Linked DNA regions of Homo sapiens: region 2 is linked to region 1. The links come from fine-mapping of genetic effects on gene expression. A gene starts in region 1. The other region holds a variant in brackets. All regions are shown on one strand. Distances are between the middles of the regions.

Region 1 (10,117 bases):
GGAAGAAGAGGGTCCCCACGTAGTCAAGAATGAAGACGTGATCCTTGGTGGGCAAGAAGCGGCGGTAGCCGTGGGCTAGCAAGGGGGCCACGCTCTTGCTGAGACATCGGCGGCGGCCTCCAAATGCCTGGAAATACAGGCCCTTCGTGTCTGGAGGAAGGAAGGAGATGGAAGGTTCAAGGGATGAGATGACACGAGGGAGATGAGTTGGAGCTTGGGTAGATTTCTTAGACACGCTGGTTTGTAGTTCCTCCCCATCCCCAGGACAGGGGAACAAACAGACCCCTTATGAAGGAGATGTGGAAAATAAGCTTAGATTATACTCGACATGTGAACTTTAGTCTCCACCCCACCTCAGCCCAGGGTCAAACATTTGCTTCTTAGTGAGCAGTTCTTTGGTGCAACCTTGCATCAGTGATGTTGAGGAAAACTCTAAGAATAAAGACACAGAGGCTGCGTGCGGCATCCACCCCCCTCACCCTGAGCCCCTCCTCCCATCCTCACAGCTCAGTGAATTTTTGCACGCCTGTAATCCCAGCACTTTGGGAGCCCAGGAGTTTGAGACCAGCCTGGGCAACGTGGCAAAACCCCATCTCTACTAAAAATACAAAAATTATCCGGGTGTGGTGGCGGGAGCCTGTAATCCCAGCTACTCAGGAGGCTGAGGCACGAGAATACTTGAACCCGGGAGGTGGAGGTTGCATTGAGCCAAGATTGCACCACTGTGCTCCAGCCTGGGTGACAGAGCAAGACCCTGTCTCAAAAAAAAAAAAAAAAAAAAAAAATCAAAGAAAAAGAAAGAAAAGAGAAGAGACAGAAACAGGAGTGAAAAGGAATGATTGATGAAGGCCGGTCATCCTCCCTCACCCCTAGCTTTGGATCTGTTTTCTGGGTCCCCCTTCTCTTTTAATCTCCCAGTGAGTGTAAGAAGTACACCCTGGGGGATCCCTGGAGGGGAAGAGGGTTTATGGCATGGTTCTCAGGCTAGGGGTGATTTTGTCCTTCAAGGGCATTGGTTGTCACAATTAAGGGGGATGCTGCTGGCCATCTGGTGGGTGGAGGCCAGGGTTGCTGCTTAAACATCCCACCATGCAGAGGACAGCTCCCCACATCAAGGAATTATTTTGCCCAGAATATCAACAGTGAGTTCAGAAGCCTTGGGTTAGAGGAGGGAAAACTCCAGGTTTGGGGAGTGAGGGATGCCTCTAGGGAAAAAGCGGGAAGTGTCTGTGTACAGAGGGAGACTTGGCAGGGAGGCCGCTAACGGGGGCTGTGGGTGGATTCCGAAGACTTGGAGGAAGTACTCAAGGGAGAATGTTTGAACTGGACCCGTTTCTTCCGGAGAAAGGGGCCCTGGAAGCACTGTTGGGAGTGTGGGGGTCATCAGGGGACTTTAGAGAGCAGGAAGGCTAAGGCGGGACAGAGGCAAGGAGAACGGGAGGTTCTGGGGAAGGTGTACAGTTCAGAATGGCAGCTCTCTTCCAGGGCCGGACTCCAGAACCCTGATCTTGGAGGCGCGGACTGAGTCTGCGACAGATGCGTCTCCACACGCCTTCCCCATCGCACACTTCGTGGAAGTAGCGGCAGGTCTGGCCGAGGGCAACAAGGTCTCTGACTGGGAGGAATGAGATGATATGCTCCACCTGGGAGGGAGGAGGGAAGAAGCGGGGAGTCTTTGGTGGCCCCTCGGTGATCTGGCCCCCAATCCTATTATTCTCAATCCCCCTCCCCAAGGACTCACCAGCTCTGGGGGGAACAACTGGATGGAAATCGGATTTCCTTTCCCCCTCTTCTCTTCAACCCCAAGCTCCGAGCCACAAGAAGGGCAGCTTCTCTTCACCTACCCAAGAAGGGGTGCATAGGGTCCCATGAGGGTCCCACATCCTTTTTTCCCTTCTCTCCGCCTACCTTGGGGCTCATCTGACTCTAGCTGGGCACAGTTATTTCCTCCCCTCTCTCTCCAGACCCATCCCTAACTTCTCCAAATAACTCCTCCCGATCTCCTGCGGCCAATCCCCCTCACCCGGAGCCCCTCCTCCCGTCCACACAGCCTGGTGAATTTTTGCAGCTTCCGTCTCTGGCTTCCCCTGACCATCCTGATTGCCCCCTCCCTGCTCCTGCCCTCCTGTCTCCTAGGCCCTTGGCCCCCCCGTTCCTGCTGGCTTTCCCACACCATGTCCCCAGCCTAGGCTTGGGGGACCTCTGAGGCCCCTCTGCCTCCTAGGCCCCTCCCCCATGGAGTCTGGGGCTAACAAACCTCTCTGTGACCTCACTGTTTGGCCACTGTGACCTGTTCCCTTTAATCTTGCCCAGGACCCATCTCTTAGACAGCTCCTGGGTTCTAGCTCAGTTCTAGCCATCACATGGCTCAAGGGATATGCATTTTACTGGAGAAATAAAGTGTGAATTACTGGTAGGTGACATCTTTATTTCAGGGAGCAGGAGGAAGTTTTCCTATTTGAGGCCCTTTTAGCACTAACTCTGTAGAGAAACACTAGTGAATTCCTCACATTTCAGCAGGCCAAGGCCTCTAGGGATTGGTAGCTCAAGAGTATAGACTCAAAAAACTATAAACTCAGTTTGACAGGTGAGATGGAGAGGTGACTGTGCTAATAATCGTTTAGCTCACAAATGATTCAGCAAACTCTTTAGACTTGTGAAAAAACACATCCAAAAGGAGACTGCAGCCTGGTGCCGGTGGCTAACGCCCGAAATCCCAGCACTTTTGGGTGGCCATGGTGCAAGGATGGCTTGAGGCCATGGGTTTCAAGACCAGCCTGGTCAACATAGACCCTGCGTCTATTAAAAAAAAAAAAAAACTTAAAAATTACCCAGGCGTGGTGATGCACCCCTGTAGTCCCAGCTACACAGGAGGCTGAGGCAGGAGGATTGCTTGAGCCCAGTTTGAGGCAGCAGTGAGCTATGATCGTGCCACTGCACTCCAGCCCGGGCGAGAATGATACCCAGTTTCAAAAAAAACAAACAAAAAAGAAGACTGCTTTTGCTTTCCTGAGGGACAGTAACATCATTGCATGTATAAAGGACAACCTATTAAGGTGGGAGAAAGGGATGGATTTCCTCTGAAAGCTTAGGATTTCTCCCAGGGTCTCTGATATTAGCTTTGTCTTATGTGGGGTGACATTTATCAGGAGAAACAGCAGGGGTCAGGGTTGTGTCTGTCCCACTCAGGCCAGATCTACACCAATAAATCCAAGGAGTGGCTGGCTCTTGCAGGGGCTCAAAGGAGTCCCATCCTGCCAGACCACCAGCCCTCACCACACAGTGTCACAGATCCGTTCATTGACTGCACCAGACTGACCACCCAAATTCCCTTATGTATGGTGCCTAGCCATGGCTAGGCTGGGATGCCTGAGATGGAATTTTAATTCTTCAGCAACTACTCAGGAATATCAACCTCTGAGATGTGAACTAAGGAGAAAGCAACTTCAGTGACTTATTTCTGGGCAACCTACCACATAGGGAGGGGACTGCATTAGGGACTCATGCCACTTAGAAAGGAAGATCTCCAAGTAGACAGAAAGGTATTTTCCATTCCTCTTGCATTTGGGTCCCCTTTATCCACTCCATTTCACCCCAGGAGGCAAACGAGAGGTTGTGAATAGAAAAAGTCCACTGTGGGCCAGGCTTTGTGGCTCACGCTTATAATCCCAGCACTTCGGGAGGCCGAGGTGGGAGCATTGCTTGAGCCCAGGAGTTTGAGATCAGCCTGGGCAACATAGTAGGACCCTGTCTCTACAAAAAATACAATTAGCTGGCATGGTGGTGCGTGCTTGTAGTCCCAGTTACTCGGGAGGCTGAGGTGGGAGGTTGAGGCTGCAGTGAGCTGCGATCAAGCCACTGCACTCCAGCCTGGGCAACAGAGCGACTCTGTCTCAAAAGAAAGAAAAAGTCCACTGTGGGCCGGGTGCGGTGGCTCACGCCTGTGATCCCAGTACTTTGGGAGGCAGAGGCAGGATCGCTTGAGGTCAAAAGTTTGAGACCAGCCTGGGCAACATAGCAAAACCCCATCTCTACAAAAATTGAAAATAAATTAGCCAGGTGCAGTGGTGCCGCCCGTGGTCCCAGCTACTTGGGAGGCTGAGGCAGGAGGATCACTTGAGCCCAGGCATTCAAGGCTGCAGTGAGCCATGACTGCACCACTGCACTCCAGCCTGGGCGACAGAATCAGACCTTCTTAAAAAAAAAAAAAAAAAGGCCGGGCGCGGTGGCTCACGCCTGTAATGCCAGCACTTTGGGAGGCCGAGGAGGGCATATTGCCTGAGCTCCTGAGTTTGCGACCAGCCTGGGCAACACGGTGAAACCCCGTCTCTACTAAAATACAAAAAATTAGCCGGGTGTGGTGGCGGGCGCCTGTAGTCCCAGCTACTCGGGAGGCTGAGGCAGGAGAATTGCTTGAACCCGGACAGTGGAGGTTGCTGTGAGCCGAGATCGCGCCACTGCACTCCAGCCTGGGCGACTGAGCGAGACTCCATCTCAAAAAATAAAAAAATAAAAAGAGGAAGGGAACGGAAGGGAGAGGGAGGGAGGGAGGAAGAGAGGAAGGGAGTGAAAACATCCACTGTGAAAACTGAGGGAGCGGGAAAGGGCTGTGCGTGGAGGATCCAGAGACCTGGTTTCTAGAGCAAGCCAGCTGTCAGGAACTTGCTGTTCGCTCTTGCTAACGCATCAACTTCCCTCTGCCTCAGTTTCTGCATTCGTAGCACCAAGGGCGTGTTCTAGGCGGTGAGATCCTTTCTAAGCCTCTAAAACCCCGTGGTCTGGTCCCCTCTCCATTCCTGTCCAGGGGAGCTCCTCGGGTGAGACGGCAGACCGTGCAACGCTGCACCTACACCCTCCCTCCTCGAGCTGGGCATCTCCAGGCTCTGGGAAGCCCCCCGCCCGCCCCCAGCCCGGGGGTCCCGAGACCCCTGCCAGAGGCTTCACAGTCGGAGGTCCCCCCGCTGCCCCTTCAGCTGCGACAACCGCCAGTGCACTGGCCTCAAGCAGTCGCCCGAATCCCCTCAAGCCCTGGACGCCGGCTAGCCCCCTAACACGTCCAGCTCGCACTCGCCACTGCAGCGGCGAACTGCGTTCCCGGCCGGCCAGGGGCTCCGCGTTCATTCTTAACCTCAGTCTTAAAGTTCTAGCTCACCCGCCTCCTCCTTAGCAAAGGGACCGCCTTCTCGCCCATGCTATTGGTAGGTAGAGCCGTCCCTCAGAGAAGAGGCAGGTCCAGATTCCCTTCGGAGGCTCTAATTGGCCTTCTTGACAGTCACTCGCCTGTATCTGGCTTACGATTGGTCTTTGGGGGACGAGGACTAGGCACCCCCTGCTTGCGGTCCCTCGGCCCGTTTTCCTGCTAGTGGAGTGCCGGTGTCCCCTCCTCTTGGTTGGACCTGATTGGCTCCACCTCCCGATCTGAGCATTGTGATTGGGTGCAGCTGCGCTGGGCGGGACGGCCTGGAGCGTCGGCCGTTGGCGAGCGCTCTATCCTTGTTCCCCTCCCTTCTCTCGTCAGACTCCGGCGCCGGAGCTCCACCCCCACTGACGGGTTCTGATTGGCCGCTTCTGACGCGTCTCGGGGCCACGATTGGTCCGTCCGGTCCCGGACACCGCTCCCTCCCCCTTGAGGCAACTACGGCGGCTCCAAGGAGGGGGTGGGGGAAGGAGGGACGGCCGGTCCCGTCAGTCAGGCAGCGGGAGCCGCCGGGAGCGGATGGCGGCGGCCGTAGCGGCTCCACTCGCCGCCGGGGGTGAGGAGGCGGCAGCCACGACCTCCGTGCCCGGGTCTCCAGGTCTGCCGGGGAGACGCAGTGCAGAGCGGGCCCTAGAGGAGGCCGTGGCCACCGGGACCCTGAACCTGTCTAACCGGCGCTTGAAGCACTTCCCCCGGGGCGCGGCCCGTAGCTACGACCTGTCAGACATCACCCAGGCTGGTGAGTGCAGCCGGGCCCCGGGCCCAACCGGGTCCCTCATTTGCATAGCCCCACCCCGGGCCCCGCCCGGCCCGGGAGTCGGGCCCGCCCCTTCACCTGGCGGCCAGGGTTGCTGCCCCTCCTGATTGCCCTAAACCTGCAGCCATCCTCTCCCATCTTTGAGAACCCCCTAGACAATGAACGTGCTTCTCGTTTGCACAGAACGCCCTGCGCCTCCGAGCGTTGGGAGAGATTCCTCCTTTCTCTTTATTTGCATATCTGCGCACCTGTAGGATGGTCCCGCCCCTCACCTGGTTGGCTTATTTACATGATCTCTTAACCTCAGCTCCAATCGGTCTATGAAGCAGTCCCCACGAGCTCCTCTAATAACTGCTTTCTCTCCCTCTTCATCTACACCTCTTAACCCCCGTCCCACCGAGATCCGAGCAGCCCCGGGCACCCCCTTCCCAGTGACTGGCCCCTAAGCCCGAGGTTTCTGCTTTCTGTGCCGCAACCCCGCCCCCTAAGGTCCTGGCCCTCTCCACTGTCCACGCAGCTCTCCAGCCTATGGGAAAGAAACAAATCTCTACCTCCCCTCACTCTTTTCTCCCTGAGCTCTTCCGCCTATTATCCCCAACCGGCTTATCTGAGATTCCTCCTCCTCCTTCCTAAGCCTGTGAGGTCACTGTGGAGCCTGTGACCTCATAGGGATCTTAGAATTCCCATTTCAGTTTCTGCTTTCCCCCGGGGGAGGGACTTGAGGCCGTTGCTGGAGGGAAGGAAATCTTATCTCCTAGCTGGGAGTGCTGGCCAGCTAGAGACTGTCCTTCCACGCCTCCACCCGCAGGATCTGTCCAACCATGCACCCTCCACCCTGGTGTCTGTGGATGGTAGGGGGTGGGGGACTTAACTGTGACAGGTGAGTCAAGCCTCAGCTACTCAGGAGGCAGCCTATGACCTTGGGCCGGCAGCTGGGGGTGGGGATCAGGATCAGGGAGGAGGACTGCATTCCCGAAGCCTCACCCCAGCCCAGGCCTCTTCCTCCTCTCATCTGCACGGTGGGGGACCAGAGCTGGAGGATAGTGCTTACTTCTCCCTAAGCAGGTGCCTGCTCACCTGGGAACACTCAGGCCGGCACTGGCACACATCCTCTTCCCTCTTCTGGGGAGAACCAGTCGAAACCTCCCCACTGATCTCGCCTGCTCTGCAACACTTGAGATGGGGAATGAGTGAGCTCCAGGAGCCATTCCTGCCCCTTACAGCCCTGTTCCCTCCCACCCCCACCTAACCCCACACTCCAGATTGACCTCAGCAGCTGTGTGACACTCACTGTCTGTTCCCTTCCCCTCCCCCTTGGTTGTTTTTTGACAAAGACCAAATGTTATTCTTTACTTCCTTAGGCTGTCTCTCCCTGTGTGGACTCTTGGGGAAAACTACCCGGAGCTCCCCGGCCCCTCCCAGCTCCCGCCCCCGGCCCCCTCCTCCCCCAGCATTCCGGCTCAGGGTGCAGCCGTGCTCCTGTGAGCTTGGGGGGGGGTCGGAAATCCCAGCTTCCCAAGAACCCTCCTCTGCCCCACTCTCTACACAGGGCCCAGGTTCTAGGCCAAGTGGGGTCCCTCTTGTCCAGAATTCTCTCCTCTGTCCCCTCTCCGCAAGCAGGGACAGAAAGGGGAAGTGACAAAAACATACAGTTGCCCATACCCTGCCCTCCATCTCTCCTCGCCCTCCAAGCAGACGAAAAGCATCAGTGCCTTGCTGCCCGGACTGCCTTGAGCCTTCCCCTCCCGTCTCCCATCTCTTTCTGAGTGTCTTCGCTGCGTGTCGCCTAGTCTTGGGTCCCTGATCTCCCTTGGACTAGGCTCCCTGGGGTGATAGTAGGAAGAATCCTGAGGTGGCGGGGAGGGGCCATCTTGCAAAGGAGAAGTGCAGCTCATTCTCTCCCAGACCACATCCTGTGCCCCCAGTGCCCTGCCTCCTGCCTGAGCTCCCTTCCGCTCCTAGCTTTTGTCCCCGCCACCGCCTACCCCATCAGAACTCTGAGAACTCGGTCTCCACCCCCTTCGTCCACATGCACACACACAAACACATTTGCAGAGAAAGCGGGCAGGTGGAGGCGAGGCTGGGAGGGGCAAATGCCATCCCCCCACCCTCTCCAGAACGGTCATCTCTGAGGCCAGGGCTTCTGTCTGTGCACCAGGGCTGGGCAGAGAGGAAGAGAAAGGGGTCCCGGGGCATCAGGCTGTCATCCACCCTGGTAAACACGGGGCCTACCAGAGCCAGAACCTGACAGATTGTTTCTACTTCATTTCCTGTCACAAGACTCATTTCCTTGGGGGATATACCCGGCTTCTCTCCTCTGCTTGCTTTTGCTGGCCTGCCCTTCCCTGAGAAGGGCCCTTGGAGAAGCTCACCAGGTCTGTGGCCTGGGACTCCGCCTCGCGGGCCCTGGGCCCCTCCCAGGACAGGCTGGGCCGAGGAAACAGAAAGGCAGGCTTCTCCAGGTCTAAGCCGTTAGTGGGTCCGTGCTACAGGGAATCCCAAGGCTGCCAGCCTCCGCATAGCAAGGCAGTGCTCCAGATAAGAGGGCGATTGTAGACCCCAGGCCCTCCCACACTCTCCACCCTCGCCGTGCCTGAGATGCTCACACAGTTGCTGATCTCTTGAAGTCTGTGTCAGTAAGAGAGGAAGCAGAGCCGGGCTGCTAGGGCTAGCAGAGGGTAGGAAGGATGCCTGCCCTGGGCCAGAGAAGCCCAGATGGGAGGGACCTGGGAACTCCAGCTCCCATCTCCAACCAGGTCTTCTTGCCCTTCCCTCCCAGCCCTTGGGAATCAGTAACTTTATGATTCTTTGGACCTGGCTTGCTGGTCCTTGGGGCTGGCGAAAAACTCGTCCGGTGTCGGGGACTTTATCTCTAGAACCAAGATAGAGTGACCTGTGGTTTTTCCCGTGTTGAAAACACACTGGAGTAGGGAAGAAGGGCCCCGAGGAGGGATGGGCACTCCCTGTGGTTTGCCCCAGGGGTTTCCCATCTTCCCTCCGGGAGCCCCCCAGCCCCTCGCCTTACTGTTTTCCCATGAGCACTGACCCCTCCTCTCACCTTCGGTCCTCCGCCTCACCTGGCATCTCTGAACAGGAACCACAGGAGTTAGAGATTCCAGCTGCTCTCCAGGATAGCCCTCCATTGACATTCCCCAACCCCCAAGTCTGAGGCTTCTCTAGCCCAGTGACGCTAAGGCCTTTGCCTTCCCTGTGCCATTCTGGTCACGCCTGGAATGTGCTCCCGTTGGCAGAAGGCTTTGTTATCTCTCCTGGGAGGCCACATTGATGGCCTTGAATCTTTAGGTGTGGAGGTGAGGGAGTGGGCAGCCGGCTCTGGGGGGACTGAAGGTCCTGTCCGGGCTGGGCCTTTCCGCAACTCTCCCCGACACCTCCTTTTCCCCAGACCTGTCCCGGAACCGGTTTCCCGAGGTGCCCGAGGCGGCGTGCCAGCTGGTGTCCCTGGAGGGCCTGAGCCTCTACCACAATTGCCTGAGATGCCTGAACCCAGCCTTGGGGAATCTCACAGCCCTCACCTACCTCAACCTCAGGTAGGGAGGCCGAGCCAGGGCCACGTGGGAGCGTGTGCTTCTCAGTCTCAAGTACTACTGAGTGACCCACCCAGTGACCCCGAGAGGATGGCAGTGCTGGGATGCCATGCCTGGGGAGCCAGTCCGCTGCCTTTCTCCCTTCCACAGCCGAAACCAGCTGTCGCTGCTGCCACCCTACATCTGCCAGCTGCCCCTGAGGGTCCTCATCGTCAGCAACAACAAGCTGGGAGCCCTGCCCCCTGACATCGGCACCCTGGGAAGCCTGCGACAGCTTGTGAGGATGGGGACGGGACCAGGAAAGGGACCCCTGAGCCAGGCAGCGGGACCTTCTAGGGGGAGGTTGGGGAGGGCCTGGAGCAAAGACAGAGATGGGAGGGTGGGTTCTGCTGGGCCTGGTCTCATGGCCCCTTCCCACTGCCTTCCTGATACCAGGACGTGAGCAGCAACGAGCTCCAATCCCTGCCCTCGGAACTGTGTGGCCTCTCTTCCCTGCGGGACCTCAATGTCCGGAGGAACCAGCTCAGTACGCTGCCCGAAGGTGAGAAGAATGAAGAACTGGAGAGGAGGTGTTTGTATGTGCGTCCCAGTTGGCTCAGGCTGCGGTAACGAAAACAC
Region 2 (10,117 bases), 280 kb after region 1:
AAGGCCTCGTAGTACTCAGGGAGCACGAGCGACACTCGCCGTCGCTTCGCCTTCATCTTGAGGCCACACAGCGTCTCCGCCACCCAGGTCTCCTCAGGCTCAGGGGCGAGCTCCTTCTCTGGCTCATCATCAGATTCATCCAAACACTCCCTCTTCCTTTTGCAGCCAAGGGACCTACGTGGGGGGCTGGGATCTACCCCAGGGGCTGAGTAAAGAAACCAGGCCACCGTGTAATGCTTCTGCAACTGATCACGTTAGACCCCGACCCCAAACCCCAAACCACTCTCCATCCTCCCCAGCCTCGCAGACTGCTGGCTTCTCCAAGCCACCTTTCTGACTTTCTCCTCTGCTCAACCCCATGTGCCACTCCTTCCCCTCCCCATTCTTCCCTCTCTCTGTCCTCAGAACACTGCGACATATCGTTCCCTGGTCCCTGGCTCTCTGAGGCCCTCTTTTTTTTTTTTGTTTCGAGACAGAATCTTGCTTTGTCACCCAGGCTGGAGTGTAGTGGTGCAATCTCAGCTGACTGCAACATCTATCTCCCGGATTCCAGTTATTCTCCTGCCTCAGCCTCTCAGGTAGCTGGGATTACAGGTGCCTGCCATAATGCCCAGCTCAATTTTGTACTTTTAGTAGAGACGGGGGTTTCACCATGTTGGCCAGGCTGGTCTCAAACTCCTGGCCTCACGTGATCCGCCTGCCTTGGCTTCCCAAAGTGCTGGGATTACAGGTGTGAGCCACTGCACCCAGCCTGAATTTCTCCATTCTTCCCACACACCCTCCCCAGGTTCTCCTTCCTGACCTCTGACCCTTCTTTTTTCTCTTCTTCTTTTTTTTTTTTTTTTTTTGAGACAGCGTCTCACTCTCTCACCCAGACTGGAGTGCAGTAGCACGATCTTGGCTCACTGCACCCTCTTCCTCCCAGGCTCAAGCGATTCTCCTGTCTCAGCCTCCCGAGTAGCTGGAACTACAGGCATGAGCTACTGTGCCCAGCCTTGGCTTTTCTTTTGACGCAGAGTTTTGCTCTGTCACCCAGGCTGGAGTGCAGTGGTGCAGTCATAGCTCACTGCAGCCTCAAAGTCCTGAGTTCAAGCAATCCTCTTGCCTCAGCCTCCCAACGTGCTGGGATCTCAGGCGGGAGCCACAGCGCCTGGCCCAAAACCAAGCTTTCTTATCCCAAGCACCGACCTTTATCAAGTCTACCTAATCCTCTGTTGACTCCTAAGTGTCCCTCATGAGTGATCACTTCAGAGTCCTCCCGCATGGAGAGCTCACCCACTGGGGCATATTTTTCCCATTGGAAAAGTGTGGTTATTGGAAGTTTCCTCTTTTTAGAAAGAACAGGATTGGAGGTGCTCTCTGGGGTGTCCTCCTACCAAGCAGCCTGTTGAAGGCCTCGTAGTACTCAGGGAGCACGAGCGACACTCGCCGTCGCTTCGCCTTCATCTTGAGGCCACACAGCGTCTCTGCCACCCAGGTCTCCTCAGGCTCAGGGGCGAGCTCCTTCTCTGGCTCATCATCAGATTCATCCAAACACTCCCTCTTCCTTTTGCAGCCAAGGGACCTACGTGGGGGGCTGGGATCTACCCCAGGGGCTGAGTAAAGAAACCAGGCCACCGTGTAATGCTTCTGCAACTGATCACGTTAGACCCCGACCCCAAACCCCAAACCATTCTCCATCCTCCCCAGCCTCTCAGACTGCTGGCTTCTCCAAGCCACCTTTCTGACTTTCTCCTCTGCTCAACCCCATGTGCCACTCCTTCCCCTCCCCATTCTTCCCTCTCTCTGTCCTCAGAACACTGCGTCATATCCTTCCCTGGTCCCTGGCTCTCTGAGGCCCTCTTTTTTTTTTTTGTTTCGAGACAGAATCTTGCTTTGTCACCCAGGCTGGAGTGTAGTGGTGCAATCTCAGCTGACTGCAACATCTATCTCCCGGATTCCAGTTATTCTCCTGCCTCAGCCTCTCAGGTAGCTGGGATTACAGGTGCCTGCCATAATGCCCAGCTCAATTTTGTACTTTTAGTAGAGACGGGGGTTTCACCATGTTGGCCAGGCTGGTCTCAAACTCCTGGCCTCACGTGATCCGCCTGCCTTGGCTTCCCAAAGTGCTGGGATTACAGGTGTGAGCCACTGCACCCAGCCTGAATTTCTCCATTCTTCCCACACACCCTCCCCAGGTTCTCCTTCCTGACCTCTGACCCTTCTTTTTTTTCTTCTTCTTTTTTTTTTTTTTTTTTTGAGACAGCGTCTCACTCTCTCACCCAGACTGGAGTGCAGTAGCACGATCTCGGCTCACTGCACCCTCTTCCTCCCAGGCTCAAGCGATTCTCCTGTCTCAGCCTCCCGAGTAGCTGGAACTACAGGCATGAGCTACTGTGCCCAGCCTTGGTTTTTCTTTTGACGCAGAGTTTTGCTCTGTCACCCAGGCTGGAGTGCAGTGGTGCAGTCATAGCTCACTGCAGCCTCAAAGTCCTGAGTTCAAGCAATCCTCTTGCCTCAGCCTCCCAACGTGCTGGGATCTCAGGCGGGAGCCACAGCGCCTGGCCCAAAACCAAGCTTTCTTATCCCAAGCACCGACCTTTATCAAGTCTACCTAATCCTCTGTTGTCTCCTAAGTGTCCCTCATGAGTGATCACTTCAGAGTCCTCCCGCATGGAGAGCTCACCCACTGGGGCATATTTTTCCCATTGGAAAAGTGTGGTTATTGGAAGTTTCCTCTTTTTAGAAAGAACAGGATTGGAGGTGCTCTCTGGGGTGTCCTCCTACCAAGCAGCCTGTTGAAGGCCTCGTAGTACTCAGGGAGCACGAGCGACACTCGCCGTCGCTTCGCCTTCATCTTGAGGCCACACAGCGTCTCCGCCACCCAGGTCTCCTCAGGCTCAGGGGCGAGCTCCTTCTCTGGCTCATCATCAGATTCATCCAAACACTCCCTCTTCCTTTTGCAGCCAAGGGACCTACGTGGGGGGCTGGGATCTACCCCAGGGGCTGAGTAAAGAAACCAGGCCACCGTGTAATGCTTCTGCAACTGATCACGTTAGACCCCGACCCCAAACCCCAAACCACTCTCCATCCTCCCCAGCCTCTCAGACTGCTGGCTTCTCCAAGCCACCTTTCTGACTTTCTCCTCTGCTCAACCCCATGTGCCACTCCTTCCCCTCCCCATTCTTCCCTCTCTCTGTCCTCAGAACACTGCGTCATATCGTTCCCTGGTCCCTGGCTCTCTGAGGCCCTCTTTTTTTTTTCTGTTTCGAGACAGAATCTTGCTTTGTCACCCAGGCTGGAGTGTAGTGGTGCAATCTCAGCTGACTGCAACATCTATCTCCCGGATTCCAGTTATTCTCCTGCCTCAGCCTCTCAGGTAGCTGGGATTACAGGTGCCTGCCATAATGCCCAGCTCAATTTTGTACTTTTAGTAGAGACGGGGGTTTCACCATGTTGGCCAGGCTGGTCTCAAACTCCTGGCCTCACGTGATCCACCTGCCTTGGCTTCCCAAAGTGCTGGGATTACAGGTGTGAGCCACTGCACCCAGCCTGAATTTCTCCATTCTTCCCACACACCCTCCCCAGGTTCTCCTTCCTGACCTCTGACCCTTCTTTTTTTTCTTCTTTTTTTTTTTTTTTTTTGAGACAGCGTCTCACTCTCTCACCCAGACTGGAGTGCAGTAGCACGATCTCGGCTCACTGCACCCTCTTCCTCCCAGGCTCAAGCGATTCTCCTGTCTCAGCCTCCCGAGTAGCTGGAACTACAGGCATGAGCTACTGTGCCCAGCCTTGGTTTTTCTTTTGACGCAGAGTTTTGCTCTGTCACTCAGGCTGGAGTGCAGTGGTGCAGTCATAGCTCACTGCAGCCTCGAAGTCCTGAGTTCAAGCAATCCTCTTGCCTCAGCCTCCCAACGTGCTGGGATCTCAGGCGGGAGCCACAGCGCCTGGCCCAAAACCAAGCTTTCTTATCCCAAGCACCGACCTTTATCAAGTCTACCTAATCCTCTGTTGTCTCCTAAGTGTCCCTCATGAGTGATCACTTCAGAGTCCTCCCGCATGGAGAGCTCACCCACTGGGGCATATTTTTCCCATTGGAAAAGTGTGGTTATTGGAAGTTTCCTCTTTTTAGAAAGAACAGGATTGGAGGTGCTCTCTGGGGTGTCCTCCTACCAAGCAGCCTGTTGAAGGCCTCGTAGTACTCAGGGAGCACGAGCGACACTCGCCGTCGCTTCGCCTTCATCTTGAGGCCACACAGCGTCTCCGCCACCCAGGTCTCCTCAGGCTCAGGGGCGAGCTCCTTCTCTGGCTCATCATCAGATTCATCCAAACACTCCCTCTTCCTTTTGCAGCCAAGGGACCTACGTGGGGGGCTGGGATCTACCCCAGGGGCTGAGTAAAGAAACCAGGCCACCGTGTAATGCTTCTGCAACTGATCACGTTAGACCCCGACCCCAAACCCCAAACCATTCTCCATCCTCCCCAGCCTCTCAGACTGCTGGCTTCTCCAAGCCACCTTTCTGACTTTCTCCTCTGCTCAACCCCATGTGCCACTCCTTCCCCTCCCCATTCTTCCCTCTCTCTGTCCTCAGAACACTGCGTCATATCGTTCCCTGGTCCCTGGCTCTCTGAGGCCCTCTTTTTTTTTTTTTGTTTCGAGACAGAATCTTGCTTTGTCACCCAGGCTGGAGTGTAGTGGTACAATCTCAGCTCACTGCAACATC[C/T]ATCTCCCGGATTCCAGTTATTCTCCTGCCTCAGCCTCTCAGGTAGCTGGGATTACAGGTGCCTGCCATAATGCCCAGCTCAATTTTGTACTTTTAGTAGAGACGGGGTTTCGCCATGTTGGCCAGGCTGGTCTCAAACTCTTGGCCTCACGTGATCCGCCTGCCTTGGCTTCCCAAAGTGCTGGGATTACAGGTGTGAGCCACTGCACCCAGCCTGAATTTCTCCATTCTTCCCACACACCCTCCCCAGGTTCTCCTTCCTGACCTCTGACCCTTCTTTTTTTTCTTCTTCTTTTTTTTTTTTTTTTTTTGAGACAGCGTCTCACTCTCTCACCCAGACTGGAGTGCAGTAGCACGATCTCGGCTCACTGCACCCTCTTCCTCCCAGGCTCAAGCGATTCTCCTGTCTCAGCCTCCCGAGTAGCTGGGATTATAGGCACACACCACTACCGCCTGGCTAATTTTTGTACTTTTAGTAGAGATGGGGTTTCACCATGTTGGCCAGGCTGGTCTTGAACTGCTGACCTCAGGTGATCTGCCCGCCTCGGCCTCCCAAAGTGTTGGTGTTACAGGGGTGAGCTACCGCACCTGGCCCCCTTCCTTCGTCTTAGTCAATCCTATGCCACCTCTTCTTCCTCCAGTCCCCTCACCTGATGGTCCCGACACTTCATCATCCACCACCTCCTGGAGGGGGTACCCTGAGGTGCTCCGCTGGGGGCTCTGCTCTTCCTGGGGCTGCGGTTGATGGCTCGTCATGATCTTTCCCAAAATCTGTCCAATCTCACCGAAGCTAGTCTCTGTTCTGTCCTTGGTCTTCTTCTGGACACTGCTGGGATCCAGAAGAGTGTGTTATCAATTCTCGAGGCTGGGAGAAGTCAGGAGTGGAGAACAGCTCTGAGAAGTTACTGTTGTTCACCTGAACTGCCAGGCGCCGACAGAGTCCGGTCCTTCCAATCAGGAAGGTCGGAATCTCTGATGTCATAGGTCATTCCAACCTGGCAACCAGTTTGAACAAAAACACATGTAACTGCCAGGCTGATCTCTTGTCCTGGAGATCCTGGGTGAATGGTATCTCCTGCCACTGTCCCAACCTCAGACCACTGTCCAAAAGCATCTTCAGGGTCTCCGCATCCCTCTGTTCCCTGTCCCAGCAGAGGCTGTGTCCTCTCCACTCAAAGCTTGAAGCGTGTTGGGGTCTCCTCTTCTCTGTACATGCCCGTTTCAGAGTCCAGTCTGGTGGGAGAGGGATCAGGATGGGAAAGAAAACTAGGGTAAGCAGAAACGATGAAACCTTATAAGAGTGAGAGTATCATGTACAAGAGATCCCAGGAACATTGACTTGATGAAAAAGTCACATCAGAGCACTCAATTTGGCAGAGCTTTTCTGCCGAATGTTTACTGATATTCACTGTCCGAGATTCTGTACTGGGTGTAACGTGTCCTCTGCCCTAAGGCATCTTTGAGTCCAAGAGATATTTTGAGGACTGGAAATCATCGGAAACTGCCCATGAGCTCACACATATTTCCAATGGTGTCCCCAGTTTCAGGGAGTCCACGGATCACCTAAAGCCAGCCCCTCCAGTTTGGCTAAGAAACTCTATATATCAAGTTTTGTATCATATGTATTGCTCTTAACTCAGAAATTCCACCATTTATAGCAGTGGTTTATTTATTTATACTATTGAAGGAAATGGTTTATTTATGAATCTATATTATGGATATTCTATAAGATACTGGGTGTACAAAAAGACTAAGTCGAAAAATCTCAGCTGTGCACAGTGGCTCATGCTTGCAATCCCATCTCTTTGGGTGGCCAAGGGAGGAAGACTGCCTGAGGCCAGCAGTTCAAGACCAGTGTAGGCAACATAGCAAGACCCCATCTCAAACAAAACAAAACAAAACAGAACAAAATTAGCCAGGTGTCGTGGCTGGCACCTGTGTTCCAACAACTTGAGAGACTGAGGTGGCAGGAGGATTGCTTGAGCCTAGGAGTTAGGGGCTGCAGTGAGCTGTGATCGTGACACCGCACTCCAGTCTGGGCAACACAGCAAGACCTTGTGTCAAAAAAATTTTTTTAATTAAATATAAAAGAGTTTCATGACATTCAGAGACCATCCAAAGAACCTGTGGGTTCCGGCCAGGCACAGTGGCTCACGCCTGTAATCCCAGCGCTTTGGGAGGCCATAGCAGGTGGATCGCTTGAGGTCAGGAGTTTAAGAGCAGCCTGGCCAACATGGTGAAACCCCATCTCTTCTAAAAATACAAAAAATTAGTCAGGCATGGTGGTGGGTGCCTGTAATCCCAGCCACTCAGGAGGCGGGGGCAGCAGAATGGCTTAAACTTGGGAGGCGGAGGTTGCAGTGAGCCAAGGTCGCACCATTGCACTCCAGCCTGGGCAACAAGAGCAAAACTACATCTCAAAAAAAAAAAAAAAACAAACAAAAAGAACCTGTGGATGAGTTCCCACATGGCTTCCTAACGGGCTGCGGCTCTCCTAGGAGTCTCTCGCTCATGGGAAAGGCACAAACTGAATGTGGAAGGAAATCCCATTGCTGTGGAAGTCCCATTGTTAGGAAGCTCTGCTTTTCTGGAGTTCAAATTTGCATTCATGACGCTTTAAACCGTCAGAGCTGGGTGTGTCCTCCTACAACAAATCACTTTACTCTCTCTCTCTCCTAGTTAACAGGCTTTCAAATATTAGAACATCCATGTTCTGACCTCATTAAAATTGCTCTTTTGTGGAATGAAAAGCTCTGATTTAACCCGTCTTTAAGCCTGGTATGCATATTCCTCTCTGTTCCGGCCACCTTGTCTAGACACACTACACTGAGGCAGTGCCCATCTTAGATGATGTTGATACATTGTCAAAAAATGGGCAAACCAGGCGCGGTGGCTCACACTTGTAATCCCAGCACTTTTGGAAGCCGATGCCGACAGATAACCAGAGGTGAGGAGGTTGAGATCAGCCTGGCCAACATGGTGAAACCTGTCTGTTTTTCTGTAAAAATACAGAAACAATGAGCTGGGTGTGGGAGTGCACTTCTGTAATTCCAGCTACTTGCGGGGCTGAGGCAGGAGAATCACTTGAACCGGGATGGTGGAGGTTCCAGTGAGCCGAGATCACGACACTACACTCCAGCCTGGGCGACAGAGTGAGACTCCGACTCAAAAAAAAAAAAAAAGTGCCAGACAGCCCAGGTTTGGTCTGATATGTTCAGAAAAAAGCAAAACAGTCACCTCTCACCTTTTCTTTTCCTGCAATGATGCCGTTTAATACAACAATGGCTGTAGGTCTGCGGCAGAAATATCATTCAAGTGAAACAGAAGGGCTTTCCTGGCTGGACACAGTGGTCACTCCTGCAATCCCAACACTTTGGTTGGCTAAGGTGGGAGGATTTCTTGCGGCCAGGAGTTCGAGGCTGCAGTGAGCTGTGATCTACCACTGCATTCCAGGCTGGGCATCAGAGTGAGGCCTGTCTCTAAAAAAAACCCTTCACTCCCCAAAAAAAGGGATTTTCAAATACCAGCCTTTCAGCATGAGGATCACATGGAGGAACATTAAGACACAGATGCTGGGACCCAGCCCTATTGATTGTAATTAAAAAACTGAGGTGAGGCCTGATTTAGCTCCATCATTGGAATCCATTCAGATTTGAAATTCTCTGAGTTGGACAGTGCAAGAGAGATCCTAAAGAAAGCAAAGTCACCGTGGACTGAAATGAGCTGACAAGGTTTTCTGAGCGTGGTGAAATATGATCTGGGCCTTGCTTGGGAGGGCTGTGGCCAGGCCTTGAGTCCGTGGCTCAGTGGGACCTTCTGAAACAGCCTCCAATCCGTGCCCCCACTTCATTTGCTAGTGGATGACCCCCTCCAGTGGCTTTGGTGCTGATGGGAATAAGTCGACCTGCAGCGGAAGTTCAGCCCAAGTTTTAGCCCAGCAGCTTCTCCACACCTGTCCGTGGTCTGGTCATGCCGCCGTCTCTGCGGTTCTCTGCGGAGTCGTGGTTTCTGTACCTTGAAGAGAACTTCCCCTCTGGGACCCAGAAACCCAGTGAATCCTCAGGAAAAAAGGGAATGAAATTACTGAAGACAACTCTGTGGCGGGGAGATGGAAAAGAGGCTCTCTCTCTTTTTTTTTCCTAATATTTTGAGACAGAGTTTCGCTCTTGTCACCCAGGCTGCAGTGCAGTGGCTCCATCTCGGCTCACTGCAACCTCTGCCTCCCAGGTTCAAGTGATTCTCCTGCCTCAGCCTCCCGAGTAGCTGAGATTACAGGCACCCACCACCACTCCCGGCTAATTTTTGTATTTTAGGGTTTCGTCATGTTTGCCAGGCTGATCTTGAACACCTGACTTCAAATGATCCACCTGCCTCTGCCTGTCAAAGTGCTGGGAATACAGGCATAAGACACTGCACCTGGCCTGTTTTTGTTTTTTAGAGACAAGGTCTCTGTTGCCTTGGCTGGGGTGCAGTGGTACAATCAGCTCTCTGTTGCCTCCTGGGCTCAAGCAATCCTCTTCTCTCACCCTCCCAAGTAGCTGAGACTACAGGTGCATGCCTGTAGTAGATATAGCATCTTGCTCTGTTGCCCAGACTGGTCTTGAACTCTTGGTCACAAGCGATCCTCTTGCCTTGGCCTCTCAGAGTGCTGGAATTACACACATGAGCCATTGAGCCCAACCAGATAAGATGATCTTTAAGGGCCCTTCCCATGGTACCATATCCAAGTCAGCGAGACTGTGGCTATAGCAAGTTTAACATAACCAGATACGCTAGTATTATGGGCTGCATGGTGTGCCCCCCACCCCTAATTCATGTATTGAAGCCATGACCCTCCAGACCTTAGAGGTGACCTTATTGGAACCAGAGTCTTTACAGAGGTGATCAAGTTAAAATGAGGTCACTAGAGGCCAGGCACGGTGGCTCACACCTGTAATCCCAGCACTTCGGGAGGCCGAGGCAGGCAGATAATGAGCCCAAGAGACCAAGACCATGATGTCCAACATGGTGAAACCCTGTCTCTACTAAAAATACAAAAATTAGCCAGGCGTGGTGGTGTGGGCCTGTAGTCCCAGCTACTCAGGAGGCTGAGGCAAGAGAATCGCTTGAACCCGGAAGGCAGAGATTGCAGTCAGCCAAGATCATGCCACTACACTCCAGCCTGGGTGACAGAGTGAGACTCTATCTCAAAAAAATAAAAATTAAAAAACTAAAAACCTACAGCACCGCCTTTTACATAATGCAATGGTTTGGTAAGCACATGCACCCCAGGGAGGTAGTGGCAGATTCAGTCAACCTTCCCAGCAGCGTGGAGACGCAGTCAGGCATAGCAGGTGTTGATGTGGTTTGAACCCACAGCTTGGCTCAAATCCACACTCCCCTACTTAGTACCGAGTGAAGCCACTTACCCTCTA

Which allele goes with the higher level. Positions count from the first base shown, and alleles are read on the strand shown. Sizes are in standard deviations (SD) of each study's normalised expression.
For the expression in CD4 T cells of the gene that starts at base 5,688 in region 1, allele C in region 2 goes with a lower level than allele T (large effect, 2.3 SD a copy in BLUEPRINT).

Evidence for each region. PIP is the estimated chance that this variant, and not a neighbour inherited with it, causes the effect.
Region 2: its variant is fine-mapped to the expression of LRCH4 in CD4 T cells (BLUEPRINT, PIP 0.95).

What each region holds. Positions count from the first base shown.
Region 1 is chr7:100,581,700-100,591,816 of GRCh38, reverse strand. LRCH4 (leucine rich repeats and calponin homology domain containing 4) reads left to right here and starts at 5,688. Exons shown (of 18, transcript NM_002319.5): 1 at 5,688-5,936; 2 at 9,358-9,502; 3 at 9,650-9,776; 4 at 9,935-10,040. The coding sequence starts at 5,717. FBXO24 (F-box protein 24) reads right to left here and starts at 5,489. Exons shown (of 10, transcript NM_033506.3): 1 at 5,153-5,489; 2 at 1,742-1,840; 3 at 1,460-1,643; 4 at 1-150. The coding sequence starts at 5,191. PCOLCE-AS1 (PCOLCE antisense RNA 1) reads left to right here. Exons shown (of 9, transcript NR_038910.1): 8 at 1,486-1,587; 9 at 1,735-2,416. RefSeq lists enhancers at 1,059-1,859, 6,352-6,865, 6,866-7,379, 7,645-7,804, 7,777-8,071 and 1 more and silencers at 4,811-4,930, 5,691-6,120, 6,161-6,210.
Region 2 is chr7:100,303,228-100,313,344 of GRCh38, reverse strand. It overlaps SPDYE3 (speedy/RINGO cell cycle regulator family member E3), which reads right to left and starts at 5,643. Exons shown (of 11, transcript NM_001004351.5): 1 at 5,354-5,643; 2 at 4,153-4,371; 3 at 2,767-2,985; 4 at 1,377-1,595; 5 at 1-205. The coding sequence starts at 5,459. The variant C/T (reference allele first, on the strand shown) is at 4,704.